Linked DNA regions of Homo sapiens. The protein of the gene in region 7 purifies or fractionates together with the protein of the main gene of each other region. This does not show direct contact. Each region holds a gene or a part of one and is shown on either strand. Other genes may lie near its edges. The genes, in order: SERPINB2, TCEA1, AKR1A1, SPAG7, ALDH7A1, COX15 and SLC25A32.

Region 1 (4,028 bases), on a different chromosome or scaffold from region 7:
CAGGAATGTCTGATTAGAAGAAATACACCATTATTCAAGCCTTAAAAAGTTAACTGAGTAATTTTCTGGGATTCGTGTTTGACCAGCTTAGAGTGAGACAGTTTTATTACTGACAAAGATAAGATAGATCATAATCACTAATATTTATTAAATATTATATATGCCAAGTATTCTTTTAATTGCTGGATATATATGAACTCATTTAGTCATTATAGCAATATGATAAAAACAGTTTTTTCTTTAGTTTTCACTGAGAGAAAACTGAAGCACAAAGAAGCACCATGGTTGGCCTGTGTTGAAGCTACTTGTAAGTGTTACAACTGGGATTTGGAGGCAGAGAGTCTAAGTCTTGAGGCCACTTTTTTAGCTACCATGTTCTAGTGCATCAAGCATCCCTGCCTGCCATCAAAGGGAGTGTGCTGCATTTCCAGGATCCAGCCGCACTTCTGCAGCCAGACTCTGTTGTTCAGGCCCCCAACCTACAATTTGCCTTATTTCTCAGGTCTTCAATTATGTTCTCCTCTGCCTCTGACTCATTCAAAAGCATTACTGCTATTAGAAACAAACACACTTAGAAAGAGCCATCTTATGTTTCCCCTCCTGCTCTTGCACCCAACCCATCTCCCATCTTCACTGCTTGCAACTCTGAGCTCAATGACTGAGGCCTTCTTCTGTGTCTGGACCACTGGACTTGGTCATTAATCCTGGTGTCCTTAATGTTTAGACAGTGGTTTCCCCAAAGGACTCTAACCTAGACTATTCTGAATTGCTATGTCTTTGCTGCTGTGAGAAAGCAGCTCTAACCCATTTTTCATACAACCCCATCCCACTGACCCTCAACATTGGGTCTTTTTGAATGAAGGTTGTTATGTCCTTGGCTCCTTCATCCTGTCTATTTTTTCTGAGTTCTCACAAGTGAGTCATAATGCTCAACTCCTAGGAGTCAAGGTCTATGATCTGCAGACCTAATGAAATGACAACAAATGTATTGTTGTTTGGAAGCAGGTTTATTTATTATATACTTGCAATTGAATATAAGATACAGACATATATATGTGTTATGTATTTCTAGAAATGCACATAACATATATTTGCCTATTGTTTAATGTTTTTTCCAGATATTTATTACAGAAGGGCATGGAGGGATACCTACTTATTCTTCATTATGAGAACAATTAAAGGCATTTATTAGATAGGAAATTAACAGATCATCTGCTTCTATAACTTTATTAGCTACATTAAATAGGCAGTGAGCAATAATTTAAAAACTCACCATTATATAAAATAATAAATAACAAAGTAAAAGTTAATGTTATAAAAATAAACTGATAGTAAGGAAAATCTAAATGGGCATGATCCCATTTTAGAAGACCAAATGATTAATAGGGTTGTCATGTTATAATAGACAATTGTCTAATTATTTCTGTGTTTTTATTTAGTGGGTAGCAGAAGTTGTTCAGAAGAGCAGAAATATGTAGAAAACATCTCTAAATTTTTGGCAATTTGAAATAGCAATTCTGAGGCACACAGCTCATCTACAAAAATCTTTTGCAGAAGCAGCACGCTTAGTTTTAGGGTGAGGAAAATCTGCCGAAAAATAAAATGCAGTTGGTTATCTTATGCATAATAAGAAAAAGAAAAGGATGATCTGCCACAAACTGTGGGCCTCCATGTCCAGTTCTCCCTGTCATAACACCTCCTGTGCCAGCGGCTGCTTCAGTGCCCTCCTCATTCACATCCACCATGGCTTGGTGGAACACTTCAGAAAGAAACAGGTCATTCCTCTCCGACATCCCTGAGAAATTGGCCCGTCCCTTGTTGAAGGCGTCCTCCATGCCCATGCTTCTCAGAATGGATCTGAGTTCATAATGCTCTTCTAATTTGAACTGGGGTATGTATACCTCAACTTCATCTTCAGCCATTTTGTCTTTGCTGGTCCACTTGTTGAGTTTGTCATAGGTTATTTCACTTTCCAGCTGCAAAGCAAAACAAAACAAAACAAACAAAAGAAAATACAGCAAGTATTAGAAAGAAGGAAAACAACTTTAAGTCTAATATTAAAAATCAGTGACTTTACTATATTGTGGGTGATATAGAAAGTTAACAGATTGGTCAGATTTTTACAAGAAGGTAACACGTATGACATAGTTAAGGCTTTGAATGAAATGTAGAGGCATGCCATATTTACTATCAACTGTTTCATATATTTCCATGAGAAATTACCACACCATTTGTAAGGAGTATATATTCATCTCATCTCACGAAAGGTAGGTATAGCCCCAGAAACTTAAATATCTGAATGTCTTACCAGCTCCAAGCCAGTGGACACATCGGCAATTTCATCTGGAAGCAACAAGAACATGCTAACATCTCCAGCATATGGGAGTTCTAGAATCTGAGCCTTTAGGTCTTCTATGTATCCAATGTTTAGCTTTTCACGCAAGTACATCATCTGTACAGGTGTGCGCTGAGCCTAATATTATTAAAAGGTAAAATATGGAAGTCGATTATAAGATATCAAGAGATTTACAATTAGACATAAAGGAGGATTGGTTCTACTTTAGTGTAGGATAAATGTGATTTTTTTAAATCAACAAAATAAATTATTTGTACATCCTTACAGTGGGTACTCTGATGTTATTAGCTTGTTCAACTTTATACCCATTATTTAGTAAGATGGACAACAATGGTAATGACAACCATAATTCTAAAACACTTGTTTAGTTCTTACTATGGGCCAGGAACCGTGCCATGTCTCAATATTTACAGCCCTTTGAAATAAGTGGTAGAGCCAACGTTGGAGTCTGGGCATGTATAATTAAAAAGCCACAGTCTTCCCCTTTACCTATACTGTTTCTAAAGAGTCAATCAACTGTCCAACATGCATAACTTCTAACTAGCAAGTCTATAATGAGCGGTCTCTAATTTTTCTGTCTATATCTTGTCAAAAGCCCTAAAATATATGCTAGGAAGATGTATTTTGTTGTCTCATACCGAGTTTACACGGAAAGGATAAAGCCCATTTAGTTTCTTCTCAAATGGAGTTTTCCACTTTCCTTTGAAGTAGACAGCATTCACCAGGACCATCCTGGTATCCCCATCTACAGAACCTTCAGGTAACAAGTTTGGGATTTTGCCTACAGAAAACATAACATATATTTAGGTTTCATAATCAAGAACTGTGAAATTACTTACTGAATCTTCTGAGTAGCCATCAAACTAAATTCTTCAAATTGCAGAGTTGTTAATCTTCAAGCTAAAGTTTTTTAGGTTTATTTAAAGCAAAATTAAAATTGAAACAAATTTCCCAAAAGCTTGCAAAATCCAAGAAAAAATGAAGAAATAATGCATTTAAAATTTAGACCGCCTATCAAGTTTGGAATGGAGATTTTCACTCCCTTTTATATTCTTTTCTCAAAGCTTGGCAGTTGAAAGTTATTCAAATCAGAGGGAAGTGAAAGAGAGGTTCTTAGGGAATATAATAGTGCCTTTCCAAAATATATCATGTACTGCTAGATCTGGTCTAGATAGTCTGAGGATCTGACTTACTCATTTATTCAAAAACGTTTTGTAAAAAATATACTAGACCTAAATTAAGAGTAGTGCAGATACAAGAGATGAGAAAGGAAGAATTATCCTGGATGAGCCTAGAACACTGGGGGAGACATTCAAAATCAGTTGTGAAACCCTGTGTGATAACTTCTGTAATTGAGCTAAATAATATATTGAGTACTATGATCATACAGAGAAGGGAGTGAAGGAGTAAGCCCGAGAAGATTGACAGAAACAATGACAAATGAGTGTGGTCATTTAAAAAAATGAAATTGGTTTAAGAAGCAGTTTGTTTATAGTTAGTACTCGCTCTGCAGTATTCCAAGCATCAAAATATATTATTTTGATACTCTATTAGGTGGGTTTTATTAGTGTCATTTTATGCAAAAGGACACCACCAGGTTAGCAGTCTTCCCAACGTTACAATGCTGGTAAGCTTGTAAAAATTCTGCCTCCACAGTCAAAACTACTGACAA
Region 2 (4,186 bases), about 49 Mb from region 7:
CAGGCAGATCACGAGGTCAGGAGATCGAGACCACCCTGGCTAACACAGTGAAACCCCGTCTCTACTAAAAATACAAAAAAATTAGCCAGGCGTTGTGGTGGGTGCCTGTAGTCCCAGCTACTCGGGAGGCTGAGGCAGGAGAACGGCGTGAACCCGGGAGGCGGAGTTTGCAGTGAGCTGAGATGGCGCCACTGCACTCCAGCCTGGGCAATAGAGTGAGACTCTGTCTCAAAGAAAAAGGAAAACAAAAATATTTGCATGTATACACATAAAATACCTAAGTTTCACAACAAACTAGTAACCTTGCTTTACTTTCAGGGAGGGAGAACGAGGTGGCCACAGGCAAAAGTGGGAATGGAATTTCCTACTCATAAACTTTTGTACTTTTTCAATTTTTAACCACAAAAATAACTACCAACAAAATTTGTTTTAAGTAAAGGCCCCTTTAGAGTTTAGTGATGCTATTTTTTAAGTGCTTAATGTTCTATCGGTGAAAAAATCAATTCCCCAAATCTACTATCTGAAACATAGTAAGTTGTCCCTTAAGGAGACAATCTTGAGTTTACAGCAGATAACATAGCACAAAAACCTATTTGGCAAATGAAATTAAGACAGTGATAAAAAAAATTTTCACATATGCACATGCAACCAAAATAACTATAACACGGTTTTCAGCTGTTAAAGAATAAAAAGGCTAGTCATATCGTACATAAATGTAAGTTATCAATATTACAAAAAGGAACAAATTATCCAGAAGACAGTTAAGCCTAAAGTACTCATAAGCCATGTGGAGGAGCGTGAAGAACTTTCCTTAAATTATATAGTCCTGCAAAATAAAAAGGATTATGGCCAATTTACCTAGTAACCAATACAATTGCTTATGAACTTTTAAAAAAGAACATGGTCATTTTATTAATTCTTATATTTTATAAATTTTGACATAGCTTTCATAGTAACTATTTCTGTGAAAGTATAAATATATCAACTTGGTTTTAGTTAACTAGAATCAGTATTAAGAAAGCATTCTGACAAGGCACAGAGGCTCATGCCTGTATTCCCAGTACTTCGGGAGGCCAAGGTGAGAGGATCATTCGAGTCTGGAAATTTGGGATCAGCCTGGACAATGCAGCAAGACCCCATCTCCGCAAAAAAATAATAATAATTTTTTTTAAAAAAAATCATTCTTACACTTAAGAAAGAAATCTTATCTCCTCTTGAACTAGTCCCCAGTTATCCATGGTTTTGCTTTCCATGGTTTCAGTTATCTATGGTCTGAAAATATTAAATGAAAAATTCCAGAAATAAACAATTCATCAGTTTTAAACTGTACATTGTTCTGAGTAGCATGAAGACAGCCTGTACCATCCTACTCTGTCTCACTTGGAATACAGATCATCCCTTTGTCCAGTGTGTGTCACTGTAATGCTACCTACCCATTAGTCATCCACATCATCAGGGCTCGATGAGGCAGGACCACCTGAAGCAGATGAGCCTCCTTCTGATGGATCATCAGAAGGTCAACAGCAGCCTAACACTTAGTCACAATGCCTACATCATTCACTTCGCCTCATCTCATCAAATGAACAGGGGTGAGTACAGTGCAAGACACTGTGAGAGACAGAAAGACTACACTCATATTACTTTCATAACAGTATCTTGTTATAATTATTCTATTTGATTAAGTTATTATTGTTAATCTCTTCCTATGCCTAATTTATAAATAAAACTTATCAGTACATATGTATCGGAAAAAACGTGGTATACATAGGGTTAGGTACTATCCGTGGTTTCAGGCATCCACTCAGGGTCTTAGAACATATCCCTCCATGGATAAGTGAGGGACTATCATACTGGTAATTATCTTTGCTATTTATTTTAAAACAGGAGTTGCAAGCATTTTTATATAAAAATAAGAATCTATAAACAATCACAAACCTGTGTGTAAGTGCAATTCTTCTTTTTACATTTGCCACATGTGAACAAGTCAGTCTGGGTCCCACCAGTCTTGGCCATCTGATGCTCTCTGATGGCTTCTTTGGTCAAGTTTTTCCGCATCTCTTTCAGCTCATCACTAGCCATTTCCTATGAGGTAGGGGGCAATACCACTCAGTTATAGACACCTTCTATATATATCCTGAATGCTTTTATGCTCAATTAGCCTAATAATAATAAAACCACATATCAACCTTTAAGGTTTTAAAAGCATTAAATTAATATTTTTCCTCAAAGGCTTTGTAAGAGTTTAATTCCTTTTAAAAATTTCTTCAAATACTTAAAAGTTTACATGTGAAAATTGGATTTAAGTACTGTTTAAAGGCTACTAAAACCACCTTTGCAAAGATTATGACAGTGAGAGAAATTGAACATGGCTGACTCCATCTTGCTTCTAGTGTCACAGGCTGGCTGTCTTCCCTCTTTCCTGGGCACAGGCCAAGTTAACCATGGAAGGAATTTAGTTTAACTTTGATGCAAAGATGGTAACAGTCCTTCCCTAAAATCGATCCCTCCTTGTTCAGAGCCTGAGATCACCTTTGTTAAGACTAATGAAATGCCAGAGGATTAGGATTATGGGACAGGCCTGAACTCTGCTAAAATGTAGACATAGTTTCTATAATCCCTCACTGCTCAGGAGTCATGTGGCCAGAGGACACAAAGTGTGTGACTTCCCCAATTGCTCCTATAGGTAACATTATTATTGTAGAACCTGAGATTGGTTTTTTGAGATGTTTTTCAGACTGACCCCTCCAGAACTCAGGCCCCTCACCCAGAGGTACAGAAGGACCAGTTCCCACATCCCTATGATTGCATCCCCAATCAATCAGCAGCACCCATTCCCTAGTCACCTAGGAATAGTTACCACCAAACTATTCTTGTAAAACCCTAACCTCCAAGTCTTCAGGGAGACTAATGTGAGTAATAACTTCGTCTCCTGCATGGCCAGCCTTGCATTAATAAAACTCTTTCTTAACCGCAATAGCGCAGTCTCAGTGAATTGGTTTTGTCTGTGTAGTGGGCGGGAAGAAGCTGTCAGGTGATTACACTATGAACAATGTAAACTTACAACGAGTACCTCTAGTATCCAGATTATAGTTTCTAATAGCATTGCCTACACCCCACTCCCAAAAGAAGTCAGGGATCTCTGGAGGAATGCCTGATTCCAGTTTTGAGGCAAGAAATGTATAGAATATGCCAGGGTCATCTTCTCACGCCAGTTTTTACCAGCTACAGTCATACTTTGCTTTATCTTGCTCTGCGCTATTGTGCTTCATTTTATTGCACTTTGCAGTTACTGCATTTTTTACAAATTGAAGGTCTGCAGCAATGCTGTGTTGAGCAAATCTATTGGCGCTATTTTTCCAAAAGCATGTGCTCATTTCATGTCTCTGTGTCACATCTTGGTAATTCTCACAATATTCCAAGCATTTTCACTATTATTATATCTGTTAGGTAATCTGTGATCAGTAATTTCTTATGTTACTATCACTGTTTTAGGGGCACCACTAACTTTGACCACATAGGACAGTAAGCTTGACAAATGCTGTGTGTGTTCCGACTGCTCCACTCTTTCCCCGTCTCTCTTCCTCTCCTTGGGCCTCCCTACTCCCTGAGACACAACAATATTGAAATCAGGCCAATTAATAACCCTACAATGGCCTCTAAGTATTCAAGGACAAGGAAGAGTCAACATGTCTCACTTTAAATCAAAACCTAGAAATAAGACTAAGTTTAGTGAGGAAGGCATATGGAAAGCTGGGATAAGCCAAAAGCTAGGTCTCTTACACCAGTTAGCCAAATTGTGAATGCAAAGGAAAATTTCTTGATGGAAATTAAAAGTGCTACTCCAGTGAACACATGAATAATGATCAAAATAGCCTTATTGCCGATATGAAAACGTTTTAGTGGCCTAGACAGAAGATCAAACCAACCACAACATTCCCTTAAGCCAAAGCCTAATCCAGAAAAAGGCCTTAACTCTTTAATGCTGAGAGAGATGAGGAAGCTGCCGAAGAAAAGTCAAGAGGCTACCAGAAGCTGGTTCATGAGGTTTAAGGAAAGAAGCTGTCTCCATAACATAGTACAAAATGCAAGGTGAAGCAGCAAGTGCTGATGGAGAAGCTACGGCAAGTTATCCAAAAGATCTAGCTAAGATCATTGATGAAGGTAGCTATTCTAAACAAAGATTTTC
Region 3 (4,186 bases), on a different chromosome or scaffold from region 7:
GTAGCATATAGTCCCATCAGCATTCTTGGGGAAGGGGTTGTCTCCCCGCCTGAGTGAGAGACAGCCCCACCAAGTGTGGACACAAATGCCAGGCTTCTACCCTACCTGCCCATCCAGCCACTCTATGTCCCAAACTCCAATCCCAGAGAGGACAAAGGGCCAAGAATTTTTAAAAAGCCATGCTTTTTCTTTTTTTTTTTTTTTGAGATGGAGTCTCGCTTTACCGCCCAGGCTGGAGTGCAGTGGCACTATCTCAGCTCACTGCAAGCTCCACCTCCTGGGTTCACGCCATTCTCCTGCCTCAGCCTCCCCAGTAGCTGGGACTACAGGCGCTCACCACCACGCGCAGCTAATTTTTTGTATTTTTAGTAGAGACGGGGTTTCACCGTGTTAGCCAGGATGATCTCGATCTCCTGACCTCGTGATCCGCCCGCCTTAGCCTCCCAAAGTGCTGGGATTACAGGCGTGAGCCACCGCGCCTGGCCAAAAAAAGCCATGCTTTTTCATCCTTCCAGATCGTAACCCAGGTGTTAAGTTTACATGGAATGCCTATGCCCCCTCCTCTTCCTAGACGTAGATATCTCCTCTCCCCTAGGAAGTCTTCCTTAACTCATCCTCAGGGAGTTATCCACCCTTCTTCCAGCACAGGGCACGGCACTAATGGTGAGCTCTTCTCACATCTTCTGCTGAGACTTACTTATTACTGTAACCCCAGGTGCTCAACAGAAAAGTCAGCACCTTTTCTAAATGAATAAAGGGAGCAGGAGGGTTACAGGTGCATACCCTGGGGTACACACCATGTGAGACTGCCTTCCTTTTTCCAGAGTTAAACTCCTGTAGCTACAGCTAAGCTGCTGTAGCAGAAGAGGCTAAGATCCCATGTCAAGCTCCTCAGCTTGGCATGCAAATGAGTGTTCCTATCCTGCTCTGCTGCTGTGACTTACAATAAGTTACTAACACCATCCTGCTCAACCCCCTGATTCCCCAGATGAGGCTCTGGCAAGGCTCACTCAAAGGCATAAGGCCAGTGCATCAGGTACAGGTCCAGATACTCCAGCTGGAGGTCAGCCAGAGTCTTCCGGAGGGCAGGCTCCACATCCTCGGGGTGGTGCTTGGTGTTCCACAGCTTGGATGTCACAAACAGCTCCTCCCGAGGCACCGCCTAGTGCAGGGGGCAGGGCCCACAGTGAGAAGAGCCATGAGCACGTGGTCTCACCCACCCTCAACTCTGGGAGAGGAACTGGAAGGAAGCTGATGCCAGATTCCCTCCAGCTGGGCCCCAGCCCTAGCTTCAGCTTCTAAGTTCTCTTATCCCACCTCTATTTACAACCCCAGTCCTTACCTTGCCTGGTCCCACGTCCTCCTTCAGGGCCTCCCCAATCTCAGGCTCATTGCCGTAGATAGCAGCACAATCAATGTGGCGGTAGCCTACGCTAAGGGCATACTTAACAGCTGCTTTTACCTGCCAGGTGAGAGAAGCAGAGGTTTCAGCTATGTTGGTTTCAGCCTTCTACTGTCACCACCCCAAGGTCAATGCTGGGGGAAGGGGGCTCAGAAATATAACAGGCACATCTATGCAGTGGAGGTGAAAAGATGGAAGATGAACTGGGCGCGGTGGCTCACGCCTGTAATCCCAGCACTTTGGGAGGCTGAGGTGGGCAGATCCCCTGAGGTCAGGAGTTCGAGACCAGCCTGGCCAGCTGGAGGTCAGCCTGGCCAACATGGTGAAACCCCATCTCTGCTAAAAATACAAAATTAGCCAGGTGTGGTGGCAGGTGCCTGTAATCCCAGCTACTCAGGAGGCTGAGGCAGGAGAATCACTTGAACCCAGGAGGCAGAGGTTGCAGTGAGCTGAGATTGTGCCACTGCACTTCAGCCTCGGCAACAAGAGCGAAACTCCATCTCAAAACAAAGAAAGAAAAAAAAAAAGATGGAAGATGGTTTCAGTCTAAGGGACCAGAAGCCTCTTCAGAGGCTCCAAACCCTTTGCTCTGCTCCCACCCCAACCAGTCTCTAAGATGCCTTCCTACCCAAGCCATCTCAGCAAGGTCTAGCAAAAACTAACAATATTTTCCCGGCATCTACCATAAAGAGGGCTTCAGTAAATATTTTTTCAGGCTGAGCACAGTGGCTCACGCCTGTAATCCTAGGACTCTGGGAGGCTGACATGGGAGCATTGCTTGAAGGCAGAAGTTCAAGACCAGCCTAGTCAACATAGTGAGACCCCCACCTCTTTAAAAAAAAAAAAAAAATTAAGGCCAGGCGTGGTGGCTCACGCCTATAATCCCAGCACTTTGGGAAGAAGAGGCAGGTGAATCACCTGAGGTCAGGGGTTTGAGACCAGCCTGGCCAACATGGTGAAATTCTTTTCTCTACTAAAAATACAAAAATTAGCTGTGCATGGTGGCATATGCCTGTAGTCCCAGCTACTCAGGAGGCTGAGATAGGAGAATCGCTTGAACCCAGGCGGGGGAGGCTGCAGTGAGCTGAGATCATGCCACTGCACTTCATCCTGGGCGAGACAGAGTGAGACTCCGTCTCAAAAAAACACAAAAAAAATAACAACAAAAAATTGAAAACAAATTTTTTTTTTTAAATAAAAGCCAGGCGCGGTGGCTCACACCTGTAATCCCAGCACTTTGGGAGGCCGAGGTGGGTGGATCACCTGAGGTCGGGAGTTTGAGACCAGCCTAACCAACACGGAGAAACCCCGTCTCTACTAAAAATACAAAATTAGCTGGGCGTGGTGGTGCATGCCTATAATCCCGGGTACTTGGGAGGCTGAGGCAGGAGAATCGCTTGAACCTGGGAGGTGGAGGTTACAGTGAGCCAAGATCATGCCATTGCACTCCAGCCTGGGCAACAAGAGTGAAACTCCTTCTCAAAAAAAAAAAAAAAAAAAAAAAAATGGCTGGGTGTGGTGGCTCACGCCTGTAGTCCCAGCACTTTGGGAGGCTGAGGTGGGTGGATCATGAGGTCAGGAGATCGAGACCATCCTGGCTAACACGGTGAAACACCGTCTCTACTAAAAATACAAAAAATTAGCTGGGCGTGGTAGGGGGTGCCTGTAGTCCCAGCTACTCAGGAGGCTGAGGCAGGAGAATGGTGTGAACCTAGGAGGCGGAGCTTGCAGTGAGGCGAGATTGCGCCACTGCACTCCAGCCTGGGCGACAGAGCAAGACTCCATCTCAAAAATAAAATTAAATAAATAAATAAATAAATAAAAATTTAAAAATTTTCAAAAATAAATAATTTTTTTTTTCAATCAGAAGACAGATGGATAAATAGAGAAAAGAAGTATAGACCATGGAAACAAGTTCCAGGTTCTAAGGAGCTGGTTAGAGAAACACAGGAAAAAATTCCTAGGCCAAGGACATACAGGGAGTTGTGTAGACAGACTCTGGGAACTCTGGGAGCACAGGCCAGCAAAAGAGGTTAGAAGGGGGAAAAGATTAAGGAAGGCAGATAAGTAGGCTGAAAGCTGGAGGCAGATAAGTGGGCTAAAAGCTGGACCCAGAACTCCCTAATGAGAGAGAAGAAAACAGGCATCAGATAGAAGGATGGGTCAGTTAATTTTGCTAAAATCCAGACTGGAAACACGGCATCAGCAGCAGAAACAAGGGTACCCGGCCCTAGACACAAAGCACCCAAAGCTCTTGTTGTGGGTGCCTGACATAGTATTCAAGATCCCCACCCGGGTGCCGACGTACTTCCCCTAACATCTGACCCCTGCTGTTCCATGCCCCGCCTTGGCCTTGTCTGTGGCCCCCAACCCTCTGCCTTGACCTAGCTCCTGGACTTCTCCGAGGCTGTGAGAAGTGCCTGCCTAAAGCACAGGGACCCTGGCTCCAGGCTCCTTGGCAGCTATAGGAAAGAAAGCAAAAGGGAAAAGAGACACAGGTCATCCAAGCACACCACAAACATCAGTCTAAATCCCAGATAGAAGAATCTGTTCTCTCTGCTGGGGCTTCTCTGAAACTTAATCCCCAAACTTCTCTTCACTCTGACTCAAGATTTCCAAGGAAGAAGGAAGAAGCCCTGGGGAAATGCCCCATTCCAGGCAGGAGCCAAATCTCATAGCTACGTCCACCCTGAGAGAGCAGGTCCATATTCCCAGACTCCCCTCAGCTGGGATGGTCTACACCAGGGGTCAGTCAATTATCAACTTTAACAGTTCTTGAGTTAA
Region 4 (3,732 bases), on a different chromosome or scaffold from region 7:
GGGCTCAAGCAATTCTCTTGCCTCAGCCTGCAAAGTAGCTGGGACTACAGGTGCACACCACCAGGTATGGCTAATTTTTAAATTTTGTATATTTTATTTTCTTTTTGTAGAGAAGGTTTGTGGCCTAGACTGATCTCAAACTCCTGGAGTCAAGCGATTCTCCTGCCTTGGCCTCCCAAAGTGCTGGGATCGCAGGTGTGAGCCACTGCGCTCAACCAATTTTTTAATTTTGTAGAGAGAAAGTCTCACTATGTTGCCCAGGCTGATCTTGACCTCCTGACCTCAAGTGATCCTCCAGCCTTGGCCTCCTAAAATGCTGGGATTACAGGTGTGAGCCACTATGCCCAGCCCGATTGCACTCTTAAAATACAGCATCTTACAAAACCCTCTGGGCCGGGCACAGTGGCTCACTCTTGCAATCCCAGCACTTTGGGAGGCTGAGGCGGGCGGATCACCTGAGGTTAGGAGTTAGAGACCAGCCTGGCCAATATGGTGAAACCCCATCTCTACTAAATGTACAAAAAATTACCCGGGTGTGGTGACACATGCCTGTAGTCCCAGCTACTCAGGAGGCTAAGGCAGGAGAATCGCTTGAACCCTGGAGGCAGAGGTTGCAGTGAGCCGAGATCACACCACTGCACTCCAGTCTGGGCAACAGAGAAAGACTCTGTCTCAAAACAAACAAACAAACAAAAAACCTCTGATAGTTCCAACTGGCCATCTTTAACCTACACAAACAGCAATTTTATGCTGTTCAACTGAAAATTATTCCCCTTCTTCTCTACCAGTGGTTCCAGGACCCACCTTTCTGTGTATAAACAAACCAGGACATTGGGTTAAACAGTATTTATTGAATGTAAAGTACCCCAGCCCCATGGGGAAGAAAATTCCAAGAACGGGGAATAATACAGATTAAATACCCACCTGTGCATTCACACTCTCACACACACACACACATGCCACGCACATATCCAAGCTCCAACGGTGACAAATCAAACACCTGTTTTCCCCCAGCCTGAGGGACAGCTGGTAGGAGGTGGTTCAGAGGTGGGGCTCCAGGATGGGCTCTAATAGCAGCAGCCTTGTCTCTCCCTGCCCCCTGCCCTGCCCCAGGGGTCAAAGGGAGCTGGGCGGGGCGCCTAGGAGGTTGGCGGCAACTCTTCCCCACTCTGCCGCAGACGCTTCTTGGCTCTGATCTCATTCATAGCCTCTTCAATGGAGCGTGTGTCCCTCTTATTGGCCACGGGCACTAGGGGCAGAGAGGAGGGTAGGGCGGGCCTAGAAATCCGTACCTCAGCCTCCACTGCCCTCCTGCCGCATCCTATGCTCCTCTCCCAGCCACCCCCAGCCGCACTGTGGCCTCACCACAGCCGTAGGTCTTATTGGCCTGTAGCATGTGGGCTGCGTCTTTGGCTGCTCCCTTGCCGATGAGGTGGCTGTACTTGTCCTTGTAGTCGCTGGCAGGGCTCACCACCACAGGCCCCTGCTGGGCTGCCTCCTCCTCTTGCCTCTGGGCCAGCTCCTAGGGGTGAAAGTGGGGGCACTGGTGCTCAGGGCCCCAGCCCAAACCCCCACCCCTCCCAGGTGGTGGGCTTCTGGACCCCAAGGGCTGCAAAGCATAGCTCACCTTCAGCTTCCGCTTCTCCTCAGCCTTCTGGGGGTCCCATTCCTCTCCACGACGGTAAGAGTCTAGCTCTTCATCTGAGGGTGCAAACTCCTGAAGAAGAGCAGAATGATGGGGTCAGAGTCCATACAAATGTTTCATTTCATTCCTTGGTCGGGGAGGGGGGATAAGGCTACAAAGGGGAGAGGAGAGAATGAGGAATTCAGGCCCTTTACCTTTTTGAAGATCATGACATAGCGACAGTCATCATCTTCCCCAAAGGAGAAGGATGTCAGGCCAGCCACTTCCACCACATCATGTCTGGGATGGGATGGCAGAGGGGAAAGAGCATCTTGAGCCAGGAGCGGGCCTAGTGCCCTCCTCTGGAGGAGCCCCCCGCTGGCCCTTTCATGCCCCGCTAGCCACCCATTTCCTTCCTCCCCCAGCCCAGGGACACTCACAGTATGCTCCTCTCGATCTTGTTCATTGGCTGAAACTTTTTCTTGATCTGCCCACTGTCTTGAATGAAATCTGACACCTCCTTCTCCATCTTGGGAGAGGGGAAAGGAAGCAGATATGAGACAATGGCTCCACCCAAGTACCCCTCTCCCTAGCTGAGCCTGGGCCCTTCTACGCCTCCCCAGCACCCTCCCCAGCCTCCAAGCCACTGGCTTCCATGCGTCACCTCTCTCAAGACATTTTCAGCAAAACTGAGTCCTCAACCTTCCAATTTTAACTTATTGGAAGTCCTTCCTGAGTCTGCCTTTGATCACTCCAGTTGTTCTCACCCTTTTACGAAACTCCACTTTCTGTTGTTTCTCTTGCTCTTGTAGTTTCTTCAGGCGGGCGGCCTGTTCTGGGGGTGAGAAATGGCAACATGAAGCCAGGGCTGGAAGCATGGGTGGGAAAGGTTTCTAAGGCTTCAAGTGAAGTGTGGTGTCCACTGGGAGGTGTCAGGCTGGGAAGGTAGGATTAGCGTTTATTCATCAAGCATTTATTGATGTTTATTCTATCTAATAGTCCCCCTTATCCACAGGGGTTCATTCCAAGACCCTCAGTGGATGCCTGAAATTGTGGATAGTACTGACCCCTATACATACTATGTCTTTTTCTATACATACATGCCTATGATAAAGTTTAATTTATAAATTAGGCACAGTAAGAGATTAAGAATAATAGACCAGGCATGGTGGCTCACGCCTATATCCCAGCACTTTGGGAGGCCGAGGCAGACAGATCTCCTGGGGTCAGGAGTTCGAGACCAGCCTGGTCAACATGGTGAAACCCCATCTCTACTAAAAATACAAAAATTAGCCGGGTGTGGTGGTGGGCGCCTATAATTCCAGCTACTGGGGAGGCTGAGGCAGGAGAATCGCTTGAACCTGGGAGGCAGAGATTGCAGTGAGCTGAGATCGCGCCATTGCACTCCAGCCTGGGCAACAAGAGTGAACTCCGTCTCAAAAAAAAAAAAGAGATGGCCGGGTGCAGTGGCTCACACCTGTAATCCCAGCACTTTGGGAGGCCAAGGTGGATGGATCATGAGGTCAGAAGATCGAGACCATCCTGACTAACACGGTGAAACCCTGTCTCTACTAAAAAAAAAAAAATATACAAAAAATTAGCTGGGTGTGGTGGTGGGCGCCTGTAGTCCCCACTACTCGGGAGGCTGAGGCAGGAGAATGGCGTGAACCTGGGAGGCGGAGCTTGCAGTGAGCAGAGATGGCGCCACTGCACTCCAGCCTGGGCGACACAGCAAGACTCCATCTCAAAAAAAAAAAAAAAAAAAAGAGATTAAGAATAACAATAATACAATAGAACAATTATAACAATGTACTGAAATAAAAGTTTGTGGCTATGCTCTCTCTCTCTCTCAAAATATCTTACTGTATATAACAGTTCTGGACTGCAGGTAACTAAAACCTTGGAAAGCAAAACCTTGGATAAGGGAGAAGTAGGGACTACTGTATCTGGCACCAGGCGAGACCCTGAAGTACTGAGATTATTAAGACACAATGTGGCCCTTCAAGAGCTCCCAGTTTAGTGGGAGTGACAAAGATCAGAATAATGCTTAACCCCCTTTCCCAACTCCACTGGGGAAACCAATTAACAAATATCTATTTATTTATTTA
Region 5 (3,844 bases), on a different chromosome or scaffold from region 7:
CAATCTTGGCTCACGGCAACCTCCGCCTCCCAGGTTCAAGTGATTCTCCTGCTTCAGCCTCCCGAGTAGCTGGGATTACAGGTGCATGTCACCACACCCAGCTAATTTTTATATTTTTTGGTAGAGATGGGGTTTCCCATGTTAGCCAGGCTGGTCTCTAACTCCTGGCCTCAAGTGATCCACCCACCCTGGCCTCCTAAGGTGTTGGGATTACAGGCATGAACCACCACACTTGGCTCTGTTTGTTTTTGTGACAGGGTCTTGCTCTGCCACCTAGGCTGGAGTGCAGTGGTGCACGATCTCAGCTCACTGCACCCTCTTCCTCCTGGACTAAAGCAATCCTCCCACCTCAGGCTCCTGCGTCTTGCTCTGTTGCCCAGGCTGGAGTGCAGTGGCGTGATCTCAGCTCACTGCAACCTCGCCTCCCAGGTTCAAGCGATTCTCCTGTCTCAGCCTCCCGAGTAGCTGGGATTACAGGCACCCATTACCATGCCCAGCTAATTTTTGTATTTTTAGTAGAGAAGGGGTTTCACCATGTTGGCCAGGCTGGTCTGGAACTTCTGACTTCGTGATCCACTGTCCTTGGCCTCCCAAAGTGCTGGGATTACAGGCGTGAGCCACCGTGCCCAGCCAGAAATACACGTTTTAAAGAATGACAACAATGCTTGCTTTGGCAGCACATATACTAAAATTGGAAAGATACAGAGAAGATTAGCATGGCTTATGCACAATGATGATATGCAAATTCATATCCGTATTTTAAAAAGTATTCCATATTTTAAAAAAAGACAGCAGAAAATGCATGGGACATTTCTGGAAGGACATAGAAGAAACGGAGTCATGGTTGCTTTTGAATTGGGTCCTTAATATTTGTATGGAAAGGAAAATTCCTTTTCAAGTACAGTAGGAGACTTTGTATTCAGAGCAATTATAATCTATTTATTGGTTATTTTAAAAAGTCAGTTAAGGCAAGGAATAAAAAAATACATATCATAAGCATTAAAAAAGAAATTAACACATATTGCCAGGTGCAGTGGCTCACACCTGCAATCTCAGCACTTTGGGAGGCTGTGGTGGGAGGATTGCTTGAGGCCAGGAATTCAAGACCCACCTGGACAACATAGTGAGACCCTGTCTCAAAAAAAAATTAGCTGAGTATGGTGGCATGCACATGTAGTGCTAGCTACTTGGGAGGCTGAGGTGGGAGGATTGCTTGAGCCCACAAGTTCGAGGCTGCAATGAGTCATGATGATGTCACTGCACTGCAGCTTGGACAACAAAGCAAGACCAAATCAAAAACAAAAAACCAAATAATAAAAAAAAAAAATCAAAAACAAAAAACCCCCCACATATAAAGATTTGTTTGTGGCCGGGCATGTTGACTCACACCTGTAATCCCAGCACTCTGGGAGGCTGAGGCAGGTGGATCACTTGAGGTCAGAAGTTCAAGACCAGCCTGGCCAAAATGGTGAAACCTGGTCTCTACTAAAAATACAAAAAAAATTTAGCTGGGCATGGTGGTGCATGCCTGTAGTCCCAGTTACTTGGGAGGCTGAGGTGGGAGGATGGCTTGAACCCGGGAGACGGAGGTTGCAGTGAGCTGAGATCAAGCCATTGCACTACAGGCTGAGTGAAAATAACCGCTTGCAGCAGTGTTTGTTCAACATAACTTGGTTGTGTCACATGGCATGGCTCTCTATCCCTGCCTGACTCCTTATTTCCATTTTTCTCTGACCAACTAAGTTAGAACCAATATCAGGAAGAGAGAATTTTCTTTCATGATTGGAAGTTATTTTGGAGAAATAATTCACCTATAAATGATGCTAATTTTTTTCTTTATAAATGTAGGCAAAGATTGCATCCTCTGACCCCAAGTCCTAGAAAACAAAATGCTTTCATTCTTTTTATTTCATTTCTCTGCATTAGGTTATGGATCGCCCTGGAAATTATGTAGAACCGACAATTGTGACAGGTCTTGGCCACGATGCGTCCATTGCACACACAGAGACTTTTGCTCCGATTCTCTATGTCTTTAAATTCAAGGTAAAAATGCATTCTGTTCGCTAGCCTGATGTTGAAATAAATGATAAGAGGAAAATGATGGTGGATTAAATTTCACTGGATGAACCTTTAAGAGGGTTTTAGAAAGTAATCTGAATAGTAGATATATGAAGGTTCAGGATAAAATATGAGATAAACACTTTAAAACTCTATAGCATGCCAAGCTAGCTGCCAGGGAAACCAGATTGGGTAGTGGACCAGTGTTGGAGTTTATGAAGTGTGTGGTCCTCATTTCCTGTGTCATCTTAATCCTGGGCTGTGTAGGCCATAGAGTCACCTTCTCCTGAACCGTGGTACTGGATAGTTTGATAGCCTGAGTGCTGTGAACATGTCAGCAGACAAAATGAGAACATGTGGGGGTAATACAAAGACCTATAGTTGGCCAGGCACGGTGGCTCACACCTGTAATCCCAGCACTTTGGGAGGGTGAGGCAGGCAGATCACCTGAGGTCAGGAGTTCGAGACCAGCCTGGCCAACATGGTGAAACCCCGTCTCTACTAAAAAACAAAAAAATTAGCCAGGCGTGGTGTTGGGCGCCTGTAATCTGTAATACCAGCTACCTGAGAGGCTGAGGCAGGAGAATCACTTGAACCCAGGAGGCTGAGGTTGCAGTGAGCCGAGATCGCACCATTGCACTCCAGCCTGGGCAACAGAGTGAGACTCCATCTCAAAAAAAAAAAAGACCTATAGTTATAAACTCCAGCAGAGGACAGGCTGCGGAGTTTTGTTTTGTTTTCCCTGATCTCATATCTTGATCTCAAACTGTAAAGGTTTTAATAGGTGAAGAAGCTGGGCACAATGGCTCATGCTTGTAATCTCAGTGCTTTGGGAGGATCACTTGAGGCCAGGTGCTCAAGACCAGCCTGACCAACACAGTGAGACCTTGTCTGTACAAAAAAATTAAAAAATTAGCCAGGTGTTGTATGTACCTATAGTCCTAGCTACTCGGGAGGCTGAGGTGGGAAGAGATCCTGTCTCTAAAACAAACAAATAAATAAAACCCAAAAAACCCACACAGGTGGATAAATTAGAAGATCTCATTCCCTAGCTTGAGACGGGCCCTAGCCTCGCCAGTAAATATTTAGGATTAATTTTGAGACTGCAGAGATTGAATCAATATTTGAATGTACCATTATTAACAGTAAAATAATAGTGAGAATTGCATCTTGTTGCAATTACATCATTGCTTCTTTATTTCTTGCTTTAAATTGCCTATCATTGTTTCACGTATGGGGACTAGAGAATATAATTTTGTGTTTTGTAATGTGTTTGTGTACATTATGAGGCTGTGTGAGCTCTTGAGCAAATTAGTCTCTGTAGGCCTCAGTTGCCCAATCTGTAAATTGGGAGGTAGTAGGAAACCTGTGTTATAGGATGAGGATTAAATAACTAAATGCATGTTAAGTGCTTAGATTGGTGTGTTACACACGTAAGAGCTCAATAGATATTAGCTATTATATGTAGTAGCTTGAATGAAAGGAAGAATGTGTTAATATTTGTTTCTGATAATTAGGGGAAAAATCCCAAAATTTTTTACTTATTATCAATGATCTGAATTATAAGAGAAACAGAGTGAGTAAACTTGACTCTTTGGTTTCCTTTTGTACACTGAAATTATACTGGTACACTTCAGGAAATGAGTTTAATGTCAGTGAACTTTGACTTGAACACTATAACATCTTACAGCTTCCAATGTCTCTCCTTTTAGAATGAAGAAGAGGTCTTTGCATGGAATAATGAAGTAAAACAGGGACTTTCAAGTAGCATCTTTACCAAAGATCT
Region 6 (4,186 bases), on a different chromosome or scaffold from region 7:
AGACTGGAGTGCAGTGGCACAATCTTGGCTCACTGCAACCTCCACCTCCCAGGCTCAAGCGATTCTCCTGCCTCAGCCTCCCAAGTAGCTGGGATTACAGGTGCGCGCCACTATTGCCCAGCTAATTTTTTAACTTTTAGTAGAGATGGGGGTTTCACTATGTTGGCCAGGCTGGTCTCAAACTCCTGACCTCAAATGATCCACCCGCCTCAGCCTCCCAAAGTGCTGGGATTACAGGTGTGAGCCACCGTGCCCAGCCTTAATTAGTTAAAATTTAAATAGCCATATGTAGCTAGTAGCTACTGTGTTGGACAGCATAGCACTATATGGCTCATTGGGTAGCATCTCAAATCCTTTTTGTAATTAGGTGAATCTAAACTAACAGAGAAAAACAATTGATAAAGTCATCAGTAACCTTTAAGAGTACAATTTCAGTAGCAAGAGTGTGTGGGTTTATGTGTAAGTGTGGGTAAATGTGTGAGTGTGTATGTATTGGGTTGGGTGAGGAAGATAATTACAGGGACTGAAAAGAAGGAATAGATTGTCAGGAAGCAGCAGCTATAGATGCAGGCAAAATGAATTCATTAAGATGAATTCATTTTAGAAGTCTGAATTAAAATGAATTCATTTTAGAAGTTTGGCTTTGATGGGCACGGTGGCTCACACCTGTAATCCCAGAACTTTGGGAGGCCGAGGCGGGTGGATCACCTGAGGTCAGGAGTTTAAGAGCAGCCTGGCCAACATGGTGAAACCCTGTCTCTACTAAAAATACAGAAAATTAGCCGAGCATGGTGGTGTGCGCCTGTAGTCCCAGCTACTCGGGAGGCTGAGGCTGAAGAATTGCTTGAACCCGGGAGGTGGAGGTTGCAGTGAGCCAAGGTCACACCACTGCACTCCAGCCTGGGCAACAGAGCAAGACTCCATCTCAAATAAATAAATAAATACATAAGTAAATAAATGAAGTTTGGCTTTGAAAGTCAGGAGACTTTCAAATAATTCCTTATTTTTCAGATGTGGAATTATTCAGTGGTTGTCTACTGTATCAATATTTCAACCCAATTTGGCTTCTCTGTGGGAATGACTGCCAAGACAACACGTCCAGTCCTTACTGGGATCTAGCTACTAGCTCCAAGTACCTAATGGATGATTCGACTTAAGAGTCCTGCTGTCATCTCAAACTTTTCTCCAGGAACAGCTTACTCAGGTCAACCCATGATTTCAATACCTAATATAAGACTCTTTTTTTTTTTTTGGAGATGGAATTTCGCTCTTGTTGCCCAGGCTAGACTGCAATGGTGCCATCTCAGCTCACTGCAACCTCTGCCTCCCGGATTCAAGCAATTCTCCTGCCTCAGCCTCTCGAGTAGCTGGGATTACAGGCATGTGCCACCATGGCTGGCTAATTTTATATTTTTAGTAGAGATGGGGTTTCTCCAGGTTGGTCAGGCTGGTCTCAAACTCCCAACCTCAGGTGATCTGCCTGCCTCTGCCTCCCAAAGTGCTGGGATTACAGGCGTGAGCCACCGCGCCTGGCCAAGACTCATTTAAAAAAAAATTCTAGGGAAAAAAATGTCCTATAAGGGTGTGGTGTCTTGGAACCTCTATTATTAATGAAGGCCTCAAAAAAATGTTATACCTTGCTTTTAAATCAAAGCATAAAATGAAAAACTAGTACTTTGCTTTAATCAGCAGACAGAAAAATACTTCAGACAAAATCACTAAGGTTTACTATTAGACTTAACTGGCAGGTCCCCATTTAACGAACAATATAGCTCTTGTCCACACCAGAAGTTCAGAAACACCTCTGTTCTGATCTTTCTCACTTTGCCATCCACCATCCCTTCTAGGAGTCAGAGGTAAAGCGACTGGGATATTTCTTGTTGTTGGTACTCCCTCCCACTCTATTTTTCAATTTGTTTCACCTTTGCCAATAGAAAATGTTGGCAAAATATTCAACTCCTATATGATCCAGCAATTCTACTTCTAGATATATATCCAAAAGAACCAAAAGCGGGGTCTTGAACACAGATATTTGCACACAACTCTTACCTTGTGCGGAGGGAGTAGCAGTGACAGTGAGGTCCACAAGCTGGCACAATAAAGAACCAGGGCTGATCCCAGGTGGGCAGCAAGGCGGTACTGACTGACCCGAGGGATGTCATGGGAGTCTGATTTTTCTTCTAGTCCACTTTTCACCATATACCATCCCAACAGACCCTAGAACCCCCAAGAGATGAAGCAAACAAAACAAGGTTAAAATGATCTGTTCAACTTTCTTTTTTTTGTTGTTTTTTTGAGACAGAGTCTCACTCTGTCACCAGGCTGGAGTGCAGTGGCGGGATCTTGGCTCACTGCAATCTCCGCCTCCCAGGTTCAAGTGATTCTCCTGCCTCAGCCTCCCAAGTGGCTGGGACTACAGTTGCGCATCACCACGCCTGGCTAATTTTTGTATTTTTAGTAGAGATGGGGTTTCACCATGTTGGCCAGATGGTGTCAATCTCTTGACCTCGTGATCCGCCCACCTCAGCCTACCAAAGTGCTGGTATTACAGGCGTAAGCCACCACACCCGGCCTGATCTGTTCAACTTTACTGAGGAAATGAGCTATCAGGAGTACTCTCTACCCCACCCCTCCTCTTTCCATACCCTCCCCAATACGCAGTGTCCCAAGATTCATGATTTATCCACAGTTCTTCACATATCACCATTAATACTTAACTACTATTTAGATCAGAAGTGTCTGATCTTTTGGCTTCCCTGGGCCACACTGGAAGAATTGTCTTGGGCCATGCATAAAATACACTAACACTAACAGTAGCTGATGAGCTTTAAAAAAAAAAAAAGGTCCATGGATATATCTCATAAAACTAGATTGAATGTTTTGGAGAAACTTAATAAAGGTAAATGCTTAAAAACATCTACTGTCAAGTTAGGTTGGAATAAGACAATTATAAAAGTTTCAGGGGAAAATCATAAAAATCAATAAGGTTTTGCATGCAGATCGCTTTGCAAATATCTAAGTTCCCACTCCGCTTTAAGCAAAACCACAGTTTATGGGGATATAAGAAACCTGCAGTTGAATGCCAATCTGGGGACGCATAGTCAAAGAAAAGGCCTTGATTTTGTAAAAGTTGGTAATGAACGTACAGATTTAAGTTTAAAAGTTTATGTTATGTATCATATTCTATGATTCTCTGCTTTAACTGGCTTTTTCAATTAACCAAACAATTGTTAGTTCCAATCATATGAAATAAGACAGCCCTTTCACTCCCACTTGCCAGTAGAATCAGGTCAAAGAGGTGGACTCTGCCACTTCTAAATATATACTCTTCAGGAAATCTTTTTGGGCATTTCTCTCCCCTTTCAAGATTACCCTGGATATTCTAATTACCTTGATTTCATCTGCAAGAGACATTGAAAGATGAAGACGTACACAGTTGATTCACTAGCCCACTTTCTTCTCCCATACCTTATCTGACATCTTTAATTTCTGCCTCCCTAATAGTGTTTTCAGTGTTGGCTTGTTTTTCTAATTCTAAAATGTTAACTTTCATTTTGTTCTACATGCCTTTCTCTGGTTACTATTAGACTTTGATTATTGTTTCTGCTGCCTCTATTTCTTCTCTCTCATCTCCCTCCTTAATCCCTTCTTTCTTTATTTATTTTTTTTGAGCCAGAGTCTTGCTCTGTTGCCCAGGCTGGAGTGCAGTGGTGCAACCTCTCAGCTCGCTGCAACCTCCGCCTCCCCGGTTCAATCAATTCTTCTGCCTCAGCCTCCGAAATAGCTGGGACTACAGGCCCACGCCAGCATGCCCAGCTAATTTTGGTATTTTAGGTAGAGACAGGGTTTTACCATGTTGGCCAGGCTGGTCTGGAACTCCTGATCCCCCACCTTGGCTTCCGAAAGTGTTGGGATTACAGGTGTGAGCCACTGCACCCGGCCTTAATCCCTTCTAACTGACTCATTTTCTTACCACTTCTGAGTTAAATTAACCAATTAGCTTCCTCCTGATTAAATTTTGATGTTTCTTTGATGCCCTGATAATCTCCTTTAGGATCTCTAAACCTTGACCCAAATACTCCTATGTGTCTTCTCTTTTAATTTGTTGCTCAGTTTCACCCAACTTTTTTTTTTTCATCATTCTAGCAGTACTAACCTGTTAACTGTGGGAGTCTTTCCTTAAGAG
Region 7 (4,171 bases):
TCACCCATCCCCTCTAGCCAACTTAATTCCTCCCTCAGGCCCTTTTTACTTCCTGTCCTCTCTGCCTAGAATGTGTTTCCTCTCACTGTGGCTCGCTTCCTCACTTCTTTCAAAATGTTCCAAATACTATCTCAGAGACCTTTCCTGACCCCAACCATACTACCTAAGATAGCAACACTATTCCCCCGTTCTGCTGTAGTTTTATTTATAGCATTAAATACCTGAAATTACATTATGCATATATTTCCTTTTCTGTCACTTACACCAAGATGAAAATTCCCTGAGGGCAGGAATATTGTCTGGCTTATTTATTGCTATATCCTCAGTGCTTGGTGACGTACCTGCCAAAGAGCAGGAGTTGAGTGACTATTTGTTGTTGAATGACTGAAATTGAGTTCTCTTCTGTCAGAACTCTTACCAGGCTTTGTGAGATATTCCTTACGAGTTCTTAATCTATAGCTGTAATTATTTAATGCATATTTATCTATCACACAAGCTTGTATGCTCTCAGAGGACAAGAATTATGTTTTATTCATTTGGGAGTACATAGGCGGTATTTAAACAATGGTGCTATCTTAAACACCAAATATCAACTGCAGTTCACTTTTTCCGTGTGGGGACTAATATCAAGATTTCATATGAATTATAGTATAATCCAGAAGTATGAAAAAATACATCATATTTAACTTATAAAGCATTCATCTGCATGTTATAAGATATTACAGTAAATACAATTAGGTACTTACCATTTTATCTTTACTTTAAAAACAATGCCTTTTCCAAAATATAAAAAAAAGACCTATTTTTAAAGAACTATTTAAAGATGGCTTTGAAAACAACACTTTTATTTACAACAAATAGATGGTAGTGCAACAGCACTCGTGGATGTTTACGATAAATAAAAATACTAGTATTCTGGCATCCTTTGGGTACAGGCCCTTTTATATTTATAGATGTCTACAATGACTCATAAAAGTAAAATCAATAAAGGCTATTAATTTGTATTTCAACCTGAATTTGAGAAACCAATGAAGATTAATCATTTATTTGGGATCTAGATCCATATATCTGAAAACTGAAGTATAAAGTTTCTCATTTCCATTTACCTTGTCAACAAACATATCCCAAACATTTCAGCATCTGTAAAAGGTGATCTATTTAGCATCTGTAATAAGTGATTTATAGTTATATATGCTAAATAAAGGTTGACACAGCTGGATCCTAGAAGCTCAGATTTTATAAATTTAAAATAGATTAAGTATTTATGCCAAAAAACAAGAACTGGATCTAGGATTTTATTTTAAATTATGGAAGTCTCTGGGGAAAAAAAATAGCAATGGAATGACAATAGATGTCAGATATTTCTCTGAGAAGTATATAGTTTCTCAATTTTCGCTAGGTAGTGCATCCCAACTGAATTAAAACTAAAGCATATTTACAGTGCATTTTTTCTCACTAAAATTTCCCAATTCTAAAATGGTCTGGCCAGGCGCAGTGGCTCACGCCTGTAATCCCAGCACTTTGGGAGGCCAAGGCAGGCGGATCACAAGGTCAGGAGATTGAGACCATCCTGGCTAACATGGTGAAACCCCATTTCTACTCAAAATATAAAAAAAAGTTAGCCAGGCGTGGTGGCAGGTGCCTGTAGTCCCAGCTACTCAGGAGGCTGAGGCAGGAGAATGGCGTGAACCCGGGAGGTGGAGGTTGCAGTGAGCTGAGATCACGCCACTGCACTCCAGCCTGGGCGACAAAGCAAGACTCCATCTCAAAAAATAAATAAATAAAAAAATAAAATAAAATGGTCTGGATTTGGTCAACACCTTATTCAGTAAATCCTTAATTTACCTTGAGACATACAAAGACATTCTTTTAAAGAGCTATTTTCTTGGTATTGCACAAAGGTTAATTTTAAAGCAATCCAGGCAAGTAAGCTCACAAAAAGAAGTACATTCATCTAATCCATTTAGCAAATGTTGCAAATCAGCTTCCACCAATAAAACGTAGAAATCTGTGAAACTCTATCCTTCGTGTCAGTTTTAACATTGTGTTGATGGCAGCCATTTCAGGCAGAGGTAGCCAAGTTCCATATATATGGGGAAGGCAAAAAGCAAGAAAAACATTGCAGGAGACTTAGCAGTTCTCTGGCTTCTAATGACTATAGAGCAATTTCGAATATGAGCCATGTTTCTATGCAGAATTCTTCTTTTATGCCTTAAACACAAAAGAGCTTGTTGCTGCCTTGGGCAGATATACTGGAATTGTCCTCTTTGAGCTTACTTTCTCTTTTCTCTAAGGTCAAGTAAAAAATGTGAGACGTTTTCATATACCACAAAGGTAATACAGCAGGCTGGAGTCACTCTAATCAAATTAGGAGCAATTCCCTTGTAAAATCCACCGACGCCTTCTTTCCTTTAGAGGGAAAAATAGATAATGCTTAATTTTGTATAGAGCTAGCTTGAAAACACGGAAGTTCTAACTGACACAAGGCATGGAGCAAGCAGCAGTCAAACCTTACTCTGATTTAAGTTCATGTTTTCAATGTCCTAAAGTAATGTAGTTTATAAGCCATCTGTAGGGATTTACATTCCTTTTATGGATGGACTGAGTAAGAGAGGGTAGGGACACCTCAAAACTGAACTAAAAAGTGCTTTCAATTAGCTATCTTTCAAATGCTTTTAAATGTATGTACAAGCAGGAGTTTTAATTGACCTAATGTAGGCATTAAAAAACCTCATAGCTTGGATAAATGCTAGCCAACATTAAATACAGCACATACAAATATAAAACTTTATTTCCTTAATGCCAATAATATGGAATACGGCCTAGAAATTTGTCACTTAGGTGCTCATTAAATATTTCTTGAATTGAATTAAATTTAAACATCCTAAATGTTCTCCTCTGTTCCTTTAGAATTAAAGGGAAATATGGTGATGTCTGCCTATAATAATTTAACTAGTCTCATACTGAAGAACAAACATCTCTTTCATATATGGAAACAAGTATTTGCAAAAGTTATGGTGCCAGTAGCAGGTGTGGAGCCTTCTTGAATGTATTAAGCTAGTCTTATGACTTCTTATATTCAATACCATTCAGATATTTTATAACACCTAAATTTTATTTTCCAAAACATTTTCACACATTTAATTTGATTCTTATAACAACCTATTAGTTAGAAAGTCTTACTTTACAAATGAAGAAATTAAGTCTCAGAGAGATTAAGGCCATGGTCACATACGTAATAACTGGGAAAGCAGGGACCACCAATCATGTTTTCACCACAGCAAACTGGCCTTTGCTATAAAACTAGTATCAACAGGATGGTCTAAGATATGCAAGGTACCTTGTCAAAGCAATTTTTGATATAGCACGTGCTCTCACCTCCATGTCTTTGTGATTACATCTATTACACCACTGTAAAACATGTGTTGATCCTGAAGACGAGCTCTTACGACTTGATATGGGTATGTTGCTGCGACAGCAAATATTTTGGATAGTGCTGCAACAGATATATATTCTACTGTGCTCTAAAATGGCAATACAAAACAGTTTTTTCTTTAGACAGGATTTCTTTAAAAATACAGAAGTAAAAATTATATACAAAAAACATTTAAATGGATCTTTAAGGGATTCTATTTTTGACATTTGTGTGGCTTCAGCCTATAAATATTTAACTATAAATTAAATCAGTGGCAGAGCCAGTACTCATCATCATAGCACTACCACCAAAGTAAGCATGACAAAAATTTCTACCTATTAAATACCCATAAAAGGAAATGATATCATTTTTACAAGAATAATCTTACCAACTGGGCTTCTGGTAATCTATTGATATGCTGGTTGTACTTCAACTTCAGCAATTCATATGCCATAAACTGAAGGGCACCATGCGATGTTCCAAACAGCCCAGGAACAAATCCCTACAAGGGAATGATTTTTAAAAAGCAAAACAACATACGTTTGAAGAACAATATATTTAAGTAAAATACTTTCTCTTCTCTCTCATTACAGCACTTTAAGCAAATTCATTTAATTTTGCACAAATCACATTTTTAAAATATGGGGTTAAAAACTTGTAATATAAAGACATGGGTAGTATTCTCTTCTACTTTATTTTTAAAGGTTTGGATGTTCACATATTAGTTTTTCTTTAAACAGTATACATATAAAGAAG

Evidence for each region.
Region 1: the proteins of SLC25A32 (region 7) and SERPINB2 purify together in Homo sapiens (affinity purification with mass spectrometry; one large-scale study listed by BioGRID and IntAct). This does not show direct contact.
Region 2: the proteins of SLC25A32 (region 7) and TCEA1 purify together in Homo sapiens (affinity purification with mass spectrometry; 2 studies listed by BioGRID and IntAct, with this or other methods). This does not show direct contact.
Region 3: the proteins of SLC25A32 (region 7) and AKR1A1 purify together in Homo sapiens (affinity purification with mass spectrometry; one large-scale study listed by BioGRID and IntAct). This does not show direct contact.
Region 4: the proteins of SLC25A32 (region 7) and SPAG7 purify together in Homo sapiens (affinity purification with mass spectrometry; one large-scale study listed by BioGRID and IntAct). This does not show direct contact.
Region 5: the proteins of SLC25A32 (region 7) and ALDH7A1 purify together in Homo sapiens (affinity purification with mass spectrometry; one large-scale study listed by BioGRID and IntAct). This does not show direct contact.
Region 6: the proteins of SLC25A32 (region 7) and COX15 purify together in Homo sapiens (affinity purification with mass spectrometry; one large-scale study listed by BioGRID and IntAct). This does not show direct contact.

Annotation. Positions count from the first base shown.
Region 1 is NC_000018.10:63,900,849-63,904,876, reverse strand, and holds the end of SERPINB2 (plasminogen activator inhibitor 2), read right to left. Parts: intron 3,138-4,028; coding exon 2,995-3,137; intron 2,474-2,994; coding exon 2,309-2,473; intron 1,977-2,308; coding exon 1,572-1,976; 3' UTR 989-1,571; downstream 1-988. UniProt on the Homo sapiens protein: Inhibits urokinase-type plasminogen activator. The monocyte derived PAI-2 is distinct from the endothelial cell-derived PAI-1.
Region 2 is NC_000008.11:53,977,090-53,981,275, forward strand, and holds part of TCEA1 (transcription elongation factor A protein 1), read right to left. Parts: intron 2,083-4,186; coding exon 1,936-2,082; intron 1,609-1,935; exon of another isoform or gene 1,434-1,608; intron 1-1,433. Other genes in the region: LYPLA1-TCEA1 readthrough, read right to left, coding at 1,936-2,082.
Region 3 is NC_000001.11:45,563,845-45,568,030, reverse strand, and holds part of AKR1A1 (aldo-keto reductase family 1 member A1), read right to left. Parts: intron 1,463-4,186; coding exon 1,343-1,462; intron 1,163-1,342; coding exon 1,011-1,162; intron 50-1,010; coding exon 1-49. UniProt on the Homo sapiens protein: Catalyzes the NADPH-dependent reduction of a wide variety of carbonyl-containing compounds to their corresponding alcohols.
Region 4 is NC_000017.11:4,958,395-4,962,126, forward strand, and holds the end of SPAG7 (sperm-associated antigen 7), read right to left. Parts: intron 2,460-3,732; coding exon 2,392-2,459; intron 2,154-2,391; coding exon 2,065-2,153; intron 1,925-2,064; coding exon 1,840-1,924; intron 1,718-1,839; coding exon 1,628-1,717; intron 1,523-1,627; coding exon 1,366-1,522; intron 1,250-1,365; coding exon 1,140-1,249; 3' UTR 832-1,139; downstream 1-831.
Region 5 is NC_000005.10:126,550,220-126,554,063, reverse strand, and holds part of ALDH7A1 (alpha-aminoadipic semialdehyde dehydrogenase isoform 1 precursor), read left to right. Parts: intron 1-665; exon of another isoform or gene 666-762; intron 763-1,926; coding exon 1,927-2,043; intron 2,044-3,770; coding exon 3,771-3,844.
Region 6 is NC_000010.11:99,721,907-99,726,092, forward strand, and holds part of COX15 (heme A synthase COX15), read right to left. Parts: intron 2,218-4,186; coding exon 2,050-2,217; intron 1-2,049. UniProt on the Homo sapiens protein: Catalyzes the second reaction in the biosynthesis of heme A, a prosthetic group of mitochondrial cytochrome c oxidase (CcO). Heme A is synthesized from heme B by two sequential enzymatic reactions catalyzed by heme O synthase (HOS) and heme A synthase (HAS).
Region 7 is NC_000008.11:103,398,138-103,402,308, forward strand, and holds the end of SLC25A32 (solute carrier family 25 member 32), read right to left. Parts: intron 3,918-4,171; coding exon 3,804-3,917; intron 3,525-3,803; coding exon 3,379-3,524; intron 2,410-3,378; coding exon 2,274-2,409; 3' UTR 501-2,273; downstream 1-500. UniProt on the Homo sapiens protein: Facilitates flavin adenine dinucleotide (FAD) translocation across the mitochondrial inner membrane into the mitochondrial matrix where it acts as a redox cofactor to assist flavoenzyme activities in fundamental metabolic processes including fatty acid beta-oxidation, amino acid and choline metabolism as well as mitochondrial electron transportation.